Homo sapiens: one gene and its partners. Each later gene encodes a partner of the first gene's protein in a complex. Each region holds a gene or a part of one and is shown in the gene's direction. Other genes may lie near its edges. The genes, in order: PPP2R5C, CRYBG1 and PPME1.

What was found.
Region 2: the proteins of PPP2R5C (region 1) and CRYBG1 are in contact, whole or in part, in a crystal structure (PDB 6VRO), measured with the Homo sapiens proteins. Residues at the interface, in NP_002710.2 of Homo sapiens: Lys183, Thr184, His187, Tyr190, Gly191, Leu194, Arg197, Ala198, Arg201, Glu226, Ile227, Ser230, Ile231, Asn233, Gly234, Phe235, Ala236, Lys240, Glu242, His243, Pro265, Gln266, Tyr269; in NP_001358171.1 of Homo sapiens: Pro1136, Phe1138, Ala1139, Met1140, Pro1141, Pro1142, Ile1143, His1144, Glu1145, Asp1146, His1147, Glu1149.
Region 3: the proteins of PPP2R5C (region 1) and PPME1 are in contact, whole or in part, in a cryo-EM structure (PDB 7SOY), measured with the Homo sapiens proteins. Residues at the interface, in NP_002710.2 of Homo sapiens: Asp180, His187, Arg188, Tyr190, Gly191, Leu194, Arg197, Ser230, Ile231, Gly234, Phe235, Ala236, Lys240, His243, Asp313, Gln341, Tyr348, Glu353, Tyr354, Glu399; in NP_057231.1 of Homo sapiens: Arg37, Lys38, Arg39, Asn192, Lys217, Val251, Glu252, Gly253, Ile254, Ile255, Glu256, Glu257, Pro345, Gln346.

Annotation. Positions count from the first base shown.
Region 1 is NC_000014.9:101,904,623-101,908,368, forward strand, and holds part of PPP2R5C (serine/threonine-protein phosphatase 2A 56 kDa regulatory subunit gamma isoform), read left to right. Parts: intron 1-1,779; coding exon 1,780-1,907; intron 1,908-3,746.
Region 2 is NC_000006.12:106,358,612-106,362,357, forward strand, and holds the start of CRYBG1 (beta/gamma crystallin domain-containing protein 1), read left to right. Parts: upstream 1-2,105; 5' UTR 2,106-2,297; coding exon 2,298-2,470; intron 2,471-3,746. UniProt on the Homo sapiens protein: May function as suppressor of malignant melanoma. It may exert its effects through interactions with the cytoskeleton.
Region 3 is NC_000011.10:74,169,708-74,173,453, forward strand, and holds the start of PPME1 (protein phosphatase methylesterase 1), read left to right. Parts: upstream 1-1,581; 5' UTR 1,582-1,714; coding exon 1,715-1,815; intron 1,816-3,746. Other genes in the region: C2CD3 (C2 domain-containing protein 3), read right to left, coding at 1,031-1,085. UniProt on the Homo sapiens protein: Demethylates proteins that have been reversibly carboxymethylated. Demethylates PPP2CB (in vitro) and PPP2CA. Binding to PPP2CA displaces the manganese ion and inactivates the enzyme.

The DNA of each region.
Region 1 (3,746 bases):
TCTGAGGAATCAGCCCTGATTCCTGAGCCTGGCACAGGCTCACCTGCCATTCTCTCAGCATCCCACCCATACACACCGCACCACAACCTCAGGATCTCTAAGCTGTAGGCTTCTGGCAGGAGAAGCGTCAGCCCCATGCTGCTCAGAGCCTCCAAGTGCTGCTGTGAGTTGTGTGCAGATGAAGGGTGTTGACAGTAGTTATACAGGTGAAGCTCCTCTTCCCAGAGGCATACATGCTGTGATGGGGACAGGCCAAGTGTCCTGGTGACTGCCTCGAACTCCCAGATAGTTCTGTGGAACGTGCACTTGTGTGCTGGTTTACTACGGAGAGAAAAAGCAAATAGGGTAGGGTATGAACAGTGTTGAATCTGGGTGGAGGGAGGTGGGCACTCATTATGTTAGTCTTGCAGCTTTGTCTGTTTTTGAAAGTTTTAGTAATAAAAATGGGGGGCTGAGTGCAGTGGCTCACGCCTGTAGTCCCAGCACTTTGGGAGGCCAAGGCGGGTGGATCACCTGAGGTCAGAAGCTCGAGAGCAGCCTGGCCAACATGGTGAAACCCCGTCTCTACTAAAAATACAAAAATTAGCCAGGTGCGATGGCGCATGCCTATAGTCCCAGCCACTCAGGAGGCTCAGGTAGGAGAATCGCTTGAACCCAGGAGGCAGAGGTTGTAGTGAGTCGAGATAGCACCACTGCACTCCAGCCTGGGCAACAGAGTGAAACTCCATCTCTTTTTAAAAAACAAAAATGGATGGGCTAGGCGTGGTAGCTCACGCCTGTAATCCCAGCACTTTGGAAGACCAAGGCAGGTGGATCACCTGATCTCAGGAGTTCGAGACCAACCTGACCAACATGGCAAAACCCTGTCTCCACTAAAAATACAAAAAAGCCGGGTGTGGTGGCGTGCGCCTGTAATCCCAGCCCCTCAGGAGGCTGAGGCAGGAGAATCGCTTGAACCCGGGAGGCAGAGGTTGCAGTCAGCCAAGATCACGCCATTGCACTCCAGCCTGGGCAACAAGAGCAAAAATCCATCTCAAAAAAAAAAAAGAAAAGAAAAATGGGGGAACCACCCTCTAGTGGCTTCCCGTGAGTAAGCGCCAGTGCACTCAGGCCCTGTTCCCCTGCCCTCCTACTGTTCATGCCCCCACTGCCCTCTGCAGTGGTCCTCAGCCAGCCCCGTGCTGACAACTCAGGACCTCTCCTCCCTCTGGTCCTTGCTCAGATGTCACCTCCTCCCCATTGAAGCCACCCCACCGCACACGCACCGCCGCTGCCTGTTCTCCTGCCCTGCTGCCCTTTGTATGTGACTTATCGTTTCTAGTAAATTAATAATCATCCATCACCTGTCTCCTCCCCACTAGAATGTAAGCTCCGTGGAGTCAAGGATTTCTGCCTTGCTTTGTTCAGTGCTGAATGCTCAGCAGAACACAGCACGCCCTCTTGACCTGACAGATGGGGGAGGCGGGTGGATAGGTGGAATGGCCTCCTTTGAGTTGTCTCCTCAGCATCTAGCCAGCATCTAGCATAAATGTTTACGGAATAAGTAGAGAAATAGGTGACAATGTTCTTGATGAGTTGATGTACAAGAAGTTGTCTGCCTCTTTGTTGAAGGCTCTTCAGGGTTACAGGTTACAGTCTAGAATATTTTGAATTTGTAGAAATAATCATAATTTTCTGGTCCAAGGTAGTTCATTACCCGACTCACAGGTTTAACAGCAAGGACAGCCACCTGATGTCTCAGGCACAACCTCCAGCAAGCCATCCACTTGTGTCTTTCAGGTGGCAGAGCGAGCTCTCTATTACTGGAATAATGAATACATCATGAGTTTAATCAGTGACAACGCAGCGAAGATTCTGCCCATCATGTTTCCTTCCTTGTACCGCAACTCAAAGACCCATTGGAACAAGTAAGAAAGAACTGGCTGCCATCTTTTTCAGTCATTTTAAAATATGGCACGTTTTACTGCTACTTCAGTAAGAATAAATATCAGAATTTTAAATATCAATTAAAAAACAAGAAGGTCAGTTGCTTTGTGGACTCATAAATTAAGTAGCAGCGTGGGTTGTTTCTGTGGCCGTTGAATTTACCACCTTATACCTTCATTCCTGCCAGTATAGAGGCACATTGGTTTGCAGCCACCTCCCAGTAGCAGCAGTTTCTAGGCCTCTTCCTGAGCGTCCTGCAGAGAAGCTGAAGGTCTCTGCAGAGCCCAGTGGGGCTCAGCCCCGGCGGGGGCACAGTGGCCACTGCATTCTCGGGGTGTCTATTGAGCTCTGCTGACATGCACCCTGGATGAGCCCCTGTGTGAGACCCAAGAACCACCCCACAGTGGTCACTACCTGGAGAAGAAGAGGGAAGCCAGGTGATCTGAACACAGCCCCATAGTCCCAGCAGCCAAAAACATTTCCTCCTACTCCGCTCCTTCATCTTTTGACTTAAAGAGGATGAATAAATCCGTTTACTGAGCAATAGTCTTCTGAGACTTTAAAAGGAAACTGTTGATATGGGTGCCACATTATTTATTTATTTTTCTTTTTTAAAATTTGTATTTTATTTGTTTATTTTTAGACAGGGTCTTGCTATGTCCCCCCGGCTGGAGTGTAGTGTCACGATCATGGCTCACTTCAGCCTCGACCTCCTGGGCTCAAGCAAACCTCCTGCCTCAGGGTCCTGAGTAGCTGGGACTACAGGCACCCACCGCTACGCCTGGCTAATTTTTGTATTTTTTGTAGAGATGGGGTTTTGCCATGTTGCCCAGGCTGGTCTCGAACTCCTGGACTCAAGTATTCCACCTGCCTCAGCCTCCCAAAGTGCTGGGACGACGTGAGCCACTGCGCCCAGGCCATATTATTTATTAATATGGTATCATCTAATATTCCTGCTATTTAAAGAAATACGACTGAGTTTTTCTTTCCCCACCTTCTTTCATCTCTTTCCATTGTATATTGTAATTATAACTCAGAACTTAAAGAAGAGCAGGTTATGCTATCCAGCCCTCCTCCCTTAGTTTATGGGTGAGGAAGGTGAGACTTGGAGGGCATTCGCAGCCCAGTCTGCGGTCCCAAAGCTGGTGAGCGGCACTCTGGCCCGGTGCGGTCTCCTAACTCGCAGTGTCTATTGGGCACCCCTCTGGCTGTGCTGCACAGTCACCCTGCTGCCGGCGGACCAGCCCTCTCCCATGCACCCTCTCTCCTTGTCCGCTCGAGGCTGCAGGTGGCACTGCCTCCTTCCCAGAATTCTGCAGGGCAGCAGCCAGACAGGTGTTAGCCCTGGAGCTCTGAGCCAGACCCCCGAGCGAGCGTCCAGCCAGTCCACTCGCGTCAAGTCTTCTGAGGGTTGCCGCCCAGAAATTCAACAGAGAAGGGCAGGCAGATCAGAGTGAGGATGACTTTGGTTCACATTCCTGCCTTCCTCCTGAGCAGCTGTCTGAACCCGGGGAAGTTAGCTCTCACCAGGTCTTTCTTAGCCACAGTTTCTCTTTGGAAAAACTGAGAAAGTAAAGTGCTTTGCCTTGCAACAATCTTCACTTGGTTGTGAGGATTAAGATAAAGTTAATATGCGTAAAGTACCTGGCTTATGATAGGCACCAAGTAAGCATTTGCTGTCACTTAGTGGTTGTAGGGCCAGCAGCCATGCTGATAGCAGTGGAGGCAGCAGCCAAGACCCTCATGGCAATAGCGTGGTGGTTGTAGTTGTTAATACAGCACATCCACCCTCAACAACCTGTTCTTTGTAGCATTGATTT
Region 2 (3,746 bases), on another chromosome or scaffold:
ACCTAATGTCCATCCACAATAATGGATAAATGAATTGTGGCATATTCATATCATGGAACAGTATACAATAATTTTTTTAAATGAAAAACTGCTATGGGTCAGGTGCAGGGGCTCACCCCTGTAATCTCAACACTTTGGTGGGAGGCTGAGGCGGACAAGTCACTTGAGCTCAGGAGTTCGAGACCAGCCTAGGCAACATGGAAAAACCCAGTCTCTACAAATGTACCCCCTCCAAAAAAAAAAAAAAAGCCCGGTCCTGTGGTGTGTGCCTGTAGTCCTGGCTGCTCAGGAGGCTGAGGTGGGACGATCACTTGTGCTCAGGTGGTCAAGGCTGCAGTGAGTGCAGTGAGAGGTGATGGTAACAGTGTACTCCTACCTGAGTGACAGAGTGAGACCCTGTCTCAAACAAAACAAGACAAAAAACTGCTACAATATAAGCAACAATATAGATGATTTTCACCGACTAATATTGAGCAAAGCAAACCAGAAACAGAGTACATATTGTGATTTTCCACTAAAATGAAATTCCAGAAAAGGTCAAATTAATCTCCAGCAAAAGAGGATGAAATAATGGTTAACTTTTACAGGTGGGAGGGGTAATGTACTGGAAGAGGACAGTAGGGAGATTTTTAAAGTTTTGAAAGTATTCTATATTTTTATAATCATATATATTTACCTATTATTATTATTTGAGACATAGTCTCATCCTGTTGCTCAGGCTGGAGTGCAGTGGCGCCATCTCGGCTCACTGCAACCTCTGCCTCCTGGGTTCAAGCGATTCTCATGTCTCGGCCTCCCGAGTACCTGGGATTACAGGCGCACCTCCACCACCACGCCCAGCTAATTTTTTTTTTGTATTTTTAGTAGAGAAGGGGTTTCACCATGTTGGCCAGGCTGGTCTCAAACTCCTGACTTCAAGTGATCTGCCTGCCTCGGCTTCCCAAAGTGCTGGGATTACAGGCGTGAGCCACCGCTCCTGGCCTATAATCATACATTTAAAAGCCACATACGGAAGAATTTTCTAGGACAATGTCAACTCTCCATTAAAAAACTTTTCACACCCCAACCACATAAATATGTAAAAATTTGAGTTTTACCCTTATGATTTGTGCATTTTACTGTCTATAAATTACATCTTGATAAAAATGTAAATAAAAACAAATAAAAATGAATGTTCCTTGAATGAGTGAATAAACGAATGAATGAGTTGTGTTTTCAAAGAGGAAAATAAAGACATTACCGTGAAAGAGGATCTTGTACTGCATTGAATTTTTAAGTAGTGCTTAGTTCTTGCACTTTCTTTGCTCTAATGATGCCCAAAATAATTGTTCGTTTACTTACTTTGCTTAAGTATTAATTTCCTTTGCTATTTAGCCACGACTGTGAAGTTAAGACAAGAAAGTCATCAACAGTAATGCAGATGATGTAAATACCTTGTGGGACTGGCATTTAATTTACTGCGAGGGATCTATTAAGCTCTTGGGGAATTGGGGAATATGCCTAATTCCCTTCTGGCGTTTTTAATTTTTTTAATCCTTTTGTGTTTTATGAGATGTGAGTACAAATTAATTATTCAGACTCTTGAGAGAGGAGACGAGTTGGCGGAGTTGCCACCCGTGTTCACGAACAGGAACAGAAGCCACCAGCACATGACATTGCCCAAGCCACCCAGAGATCAGAGTGGAAGAGTCCTAATTGCTGGGCGGCCCAGCCCCGGGATGTGCCTCTCCCATCCTTCTCCAGGCGGGGCTCGTGGCTAAGCAGCGACTCACCCTGCCAGCCTGTCACAGGCCAAGAGCGGCCAACAACTCCGCAGGCGACAATGGCCGCTGCACCCCAGGCGCTGTGGAAGCCCGACCCGGCTCTGGGTCCCATCTTAGAGCCTGGGATGCAGTGTCGGGAGTCGCGGTGCCCAGAGCATCCAGTAGGTGTCGCTGTCCCACGGCCGCCGCGCGCCCCCGGGGTGGGGAGCCGGGGCGTGTCTGCCTCACCTGGGGCTCCCGGCGCGAGCGCCTCACCTGGGCTAGCGCCCCTTGCCGCCCGCGCCGCGCGGGGGCGCTCTTCCGCGGCTGGGTCCCCGCCTCCGCCCCAACAGCTCGGGCTGCAGTGCTGCTCGCGCTGCGCTGGGTGCTGGTTCTGCAACCCGCGGCCGTCCCCCCGCATCCGCGACGAGGGGGCGGGGTCCCACGGCGCGCTGAGAAAGGCGGGCGAGCTGGCGCTCAGGTGTGTTCTTCCATAGGGCCCGGGCGGCAGAGAGGACCGCGTCCCGGCAGTCGGAGCGGGAGGAGGACAAGACGATGCCGCTGTCCCCGCCAGCCCAGGGCGACCCCGGGGAGCCCAGCCCGTGCAGGCCCCCTAAGAAGCACACCACCTTCCACCTCTGGCGCTCCAAAAAGAAGCAGCAGCCGGCGCCGCCTGACTGTGGGGTGTTCGTTCCGCACCCGCTCCCGGCGCCTGCCGGAGAGGCCAGGTGAGCTCCTCGCCCGAGCCCTCCAGTCCCACCTCCTCCTCCTCCTCCTTCTCCTGCTGCGCTAGCCCTTGGACTCCTGACCCCACTTGGAGGAGGGGAAAGCCCCGGGGTCTGTTTCAGTCCGCAGGAGGGTACCCGGGTCCGGAGGGGAGCGATCGTAGCCGCTGGGGTTGACGAGGTTCCTCGCGGCTTTTGGTTCAGACCAAGCACCGGCGAGAGGAACTTGTGCCCACGCATGTGGCCTTTAGTATGACTGCAAAGTTTTCATGCAGGAGCCTCCCGCATCAGCCTGCTAACCAGAGCGGCGGGGAGTGAGGGTTGTTACCGTCCTAAATGATGGCGGGAACTCTGCTTTGGGGTTAGGCACTGCTTTTGAGCTAGTGTCTTTATTGTAAAGCTCTTTATTGTGAATATCTGTAAGATCTGTGCTCTTACAGATGTTATACCCCCATTCTCCTCGCAACATACGAAGGGAGGAGGAAGTGGCAGGAATGGTTACCCCCATTTCATGGGTGGAGGAACTGAGACCAAAGGATAAATGGCTTCTCCCCATTGGAGCCAGTGGCAGAGCTAGAGAGCACCTAGTTATCAAAACTGTAGTTACCATTGTGCTTTTTGATTTTTATCATGGTTTTGAAGTGGTTTTATTCTATATGTATAATTATTCAACTATAGCATCAGAGTTTATGCATTCGTTGAATAATAATCAATTTGAAGTAACAGCGTATTTACATGGCTCAGAGGTGTGAAATATTTATAGTGATGGACAATTGACAATGTCCAGTAAATCCTTCCAAATGTGTTTTTAAAATACACCCTATGAGGGCCAGAATAAAATTGTGCAAAATTTGCATTTTAGACATGGTTTTCCTTTTATTTCTTTCTTTCTTTTTTTTTTTTTTTTTCTGAGACGGAGTCTTGCTCTGTCACCCAGGCTGGAGTGCACTGGCCCAATCCCGGCTCACTGCAAGCTCCACCTCCCGGGTTCACGCCATTCTCCTGCCTCAGCCCCCGAGTAGCTGGGACCACAGGCGCCCGCCACCACGCCCGGCTAATTTTTTGTATTTTTAGTAGAAACGGGGTTTCACCGTGTTAGACAGGATGGTCTCGATCTCCTGACCTCATGATCCGCCCGCCTCGGCCTCCCAAAGTGCTGGGATTACAGGCATGAGCCACCGCGCCCGGCCTCTCCTTTTATTTGTAAAAAAAGTCAATTTTACGATCTATTTTCATTCACTTATTGTATTGAGTACCTTAGCTAAGTGCCATGTACTGC
Region 3 (3,746 bases), on another chromosome or scaffold:
TTCCGATTATCAACCAAACATGCTTAACTGTTTTGACACAGGGAGCACTAGTATGCTTCAGTCTCAGATCCTCCTATCTTTCCTGGCAGGAAAGTCAGTATCTCAAAACTGCCTTAGTAATCTTTAAACAGCTTGGATAAGAGTAATTCCCAGATTGTAGCTTCAGTCCTCAACCCAATGGCCTAATGTCCTATCACTGTTCCCAATACTTCTTTTCTCGCTAAACTGCCTACAATGCAAAAAGGCAGGGTCACCCACTGTCCTTTTTCCCTTCGAGGCAGTCTTGTAGAGATTCAATGTCAAGTTTCCTGATCTGCCCTGGGTTCCTAGGTTGACTGTTCTCACTGCAGCTAACATCCCCTACTCGGTGAGCTTGTGTCTCCTTGAGCTGCTAACCTGATGAGGACTCTCTGCTGCACACTCTTTCATGATCTCAGGTCCTTCAGGAGATCGTCATGCCCTTACCCCCACTCCAATCCTATCACACCTGTCATTCCCCACTCTTCCCGGCTCTATACTCTACAATTATTTTTCCCAACTCCTGCTCATAGTCAGCCCTTCATACTTCATTCATTCAACTAACATTTACCGAGTCCTGCTTTGTACTAATCCTTGGTCATTCAGTAATGTATAAAACGTGATTCTTGCCCACAATCACACAACAAATGATATAATCCCTTTGCCAATTTATGTTTCTTCCTGTCCCTGTGGACCTCGAAAGCTACACACACACATACATTTCACTTCGTTATCAAAACCAATCCCATCATTGTTTGTTCTTCTCCTCTACAGTCATCCTACCGGTAACCTTCATCTCATTAATCGCCTGTCTGTGGCCCCTACCCCAGCCCCTAATTCCTTTCTATTCTCTGGAGGGCCAATTGCCCTTCCTTTTAACCTTCTGGTTCCCTGGCTACTTCCTTCTTACGTCCCTTTTCTTGTTTATCCAGCGGGGGTGCGGGTCTCCCTAAAATTCCTTACACCCTGCTCTCCTATTACGCTTTCCTCAATCTTTGATCGCTCAGGTTACCTCTTTTTTTGCGCCCACGGCTGCCCCCAGACCCTTGGCCTTTTCGTTGTTTCATGATGAGCCCGAGCTCTTCTTCACCAGCTCAACTCCGTCTCCAGCACCTAAGCAGTATCCTCCCGCCATCCCTCCCCACGGCGCCTGCGTTCCCCGGCAACCGGCGCCGCTGGGCAGCCTGGGAGGCAGGAAAAAGCGACTCTTCCTCTAACAGTCTCCGGAAAACGGTGCGAAGAGAAGGCGCCAAGACGCCTTCCCTCCAATACACTACAATACCCAGGACGCTTTGCTACAATACCTCTCCGGGGTTGGCTGGGGGGCGCCTCCAGCTGCGCAAGCGCATAGGGATGCGCCCTTTGTGGACTCCATTGCGCAGGGTGCATTGCCCTGAAGAGCGCTCCTCCTTCCGGTGAAAGTCGTCGGGTTCCCAGCCGGGAGTCTGCGGAGTTCTCATACTCTGTTACCCAGCTTCCTTTGTATGAGTGCTGTTGCGCACTTCCGGTGGAAGCGCTGAAGCGAGTGGGTGGAGTTTACGGAGCCGGTGGGCGGTAGGCGGTGCTACGGGTAGCTGGGTGCTGTCCAAAGGCGACAGGGCGTCGTTAGGGGAGCGAGTCGTGACCGGTTGGGCCACACTCAACGTGGGACGAAGCTTCGCCTACTGTTTGACTACGTGCGTGCAGCCTCCCCTCGATGTCGGCCCTCGAAAAGAGCATGCACCTCGGCCGCCTTCCCTCTCGCCCACCTCTACCCGGCAGCGGGGGCAGTCAGAGCGGAGCCAAGATGCGAATGGGGTACGTGACCCATACCCCTTCTCCCTATGGGCCAGGCCCCAGCCGTTGGAGAATGGTATCTCTGGGCGTTCATAGAGGCACGGGAAAGGAGTCTACTGATAGGAGAAAATGTTGGCGGCCTGGAGATATTTAGATGGAGTAGAAGGCAGATTGGGGTACTAGGGGAGGCGCCAAGTCAATAGAAATTGGAGGAAAAATAACGTTGTTGAAGGGAGAGGGGAATGAGGCAAAGGTTGGGGAAGCTGAGAGACTAACATAAGGGATCTGAGAATCACTTCCACAATAAAGGAGGCTTAGAAAAGGGAGTAGAACGGTGACAAAGGTGGAGGAGAATCGGCCAGGGAAGGTGGAGGGAAGTGGGGAATGACTGAGAGAAAAGTTGAGGGGAATTGGGCCAACAACTAAGGAAAGGTTTGGGAGGAGTAGATATTATCAGAGTTCTAATATCTGCACTGTGAGAACTAGATACTAGAAAAGCTGAGGGGGGTAGAAAACACTCGAGACAGGGCTGGAGAAGGAAAGAGGAGAACTAGGAAGCAGACGATTCTAGAGAATTCCCAGAGGTGTAAAGACAGATTCAGCGAATGAGAGGTGAGATTAGGTCTCTTAAGGGAGAATGAGAAAGTTTAGGGAGTAGGCCTAAGGTAAGGTGGAGAACATAGCCACGAAGATTGTTAAGGGTAGTAGGAATGTGCTGAGAAGCTGGACAGGATAAGGGAGAGAGAAGAAGGAGAGGACTGAAGAATTTACAGAGTGAGAAGCTGGACAGGATAAGGGAGAGAGAAGAAGGAGAGAACTGAAGAATTTACAGAGTGACCATAGGCTCTAAAGATTGAGAGATGACTATAAATACGGTTTGGTGAATGGAAGTGCTGCAGTTGTAAGGTCTGGGAAGCTTAGAGGAAGATTTGGGCAATCAGTTTTTGCTGGGCTAGTAGATCTGAGGGAAGCGACGTACTGGCCTAAGACTTTGAATTAGTGAAGCATTGGGAGTTCGAGAAATAGTTTGCTGGAAAGGAAGGAGAGCCATGTAGAAGAGATAGGTTTTGGAATTTTAGATCGTTAAATGGCTTGTGCCAGGTTAGGGGATACTTGGGCCGAGGAGAAAGAATGAGGTGAACATGGGAGAAGTAATTGCTGGAAAGTGGAGAGAATTGAATAGGCATTTGGTTTTGAGGGGATATTTGTAGTTTCAAACAGGATTCTGGGAATTAGTGACTGTAAAGAGAAAAGGAGTAGGAAAGATACTTAGGTATGAGGGCTCCAGAGTATATTTGGGATTCTAGAGATGAATTGGTAGATATTCTTTGAAAAAGGACTACAGAAGAGAAACCTTAGGTTCTGAAGAAGTAATATGTGTAAAAACTTATCAAAAAGGAGGCGAGAGTAGGAGATGCAGTACTGTGACAGTAAGTCCTAGGGATGAAAAGAAAGGAGAATCCTATAAAACAGTGGGGTAAAGGAATGGGAAAAATGGGTGGAAAAACCAGGGAAGGAAACTAAGAATTGAGTGGAGACCTGCTATGATACGCAGTAGAAAAATGAGAAAACTTTAGCAGGAGGAGATAGAGAGATAGACGCACAATAGAGGTAGAAGGCTACATAGAAGGTAAAGTGAAGATTGTTTTGGCTTTGGAAGACAGAAAAGTTGGACTATAACATGAATAAAGAGAATTTGGAAACTGACCCATAACATTATTTGGGAAAACTAACCTGGAGTTTAATATTAATGTAACATTAATTGTTGTTAAATATCTTAGTTGCTGCCTTTCTTAAAATAAATTTGATTTTTCAGTATACCAGCACCCTTCTATACAAATACATAAGAAAATCAGATTTTTAATAATTATACATTCCTTAGATAAGCTTAATTAGAGCTCAGCTTCTCATCTTGGAGAAACAAGTTCTCTGAAGATTGAAGAACTGAATGA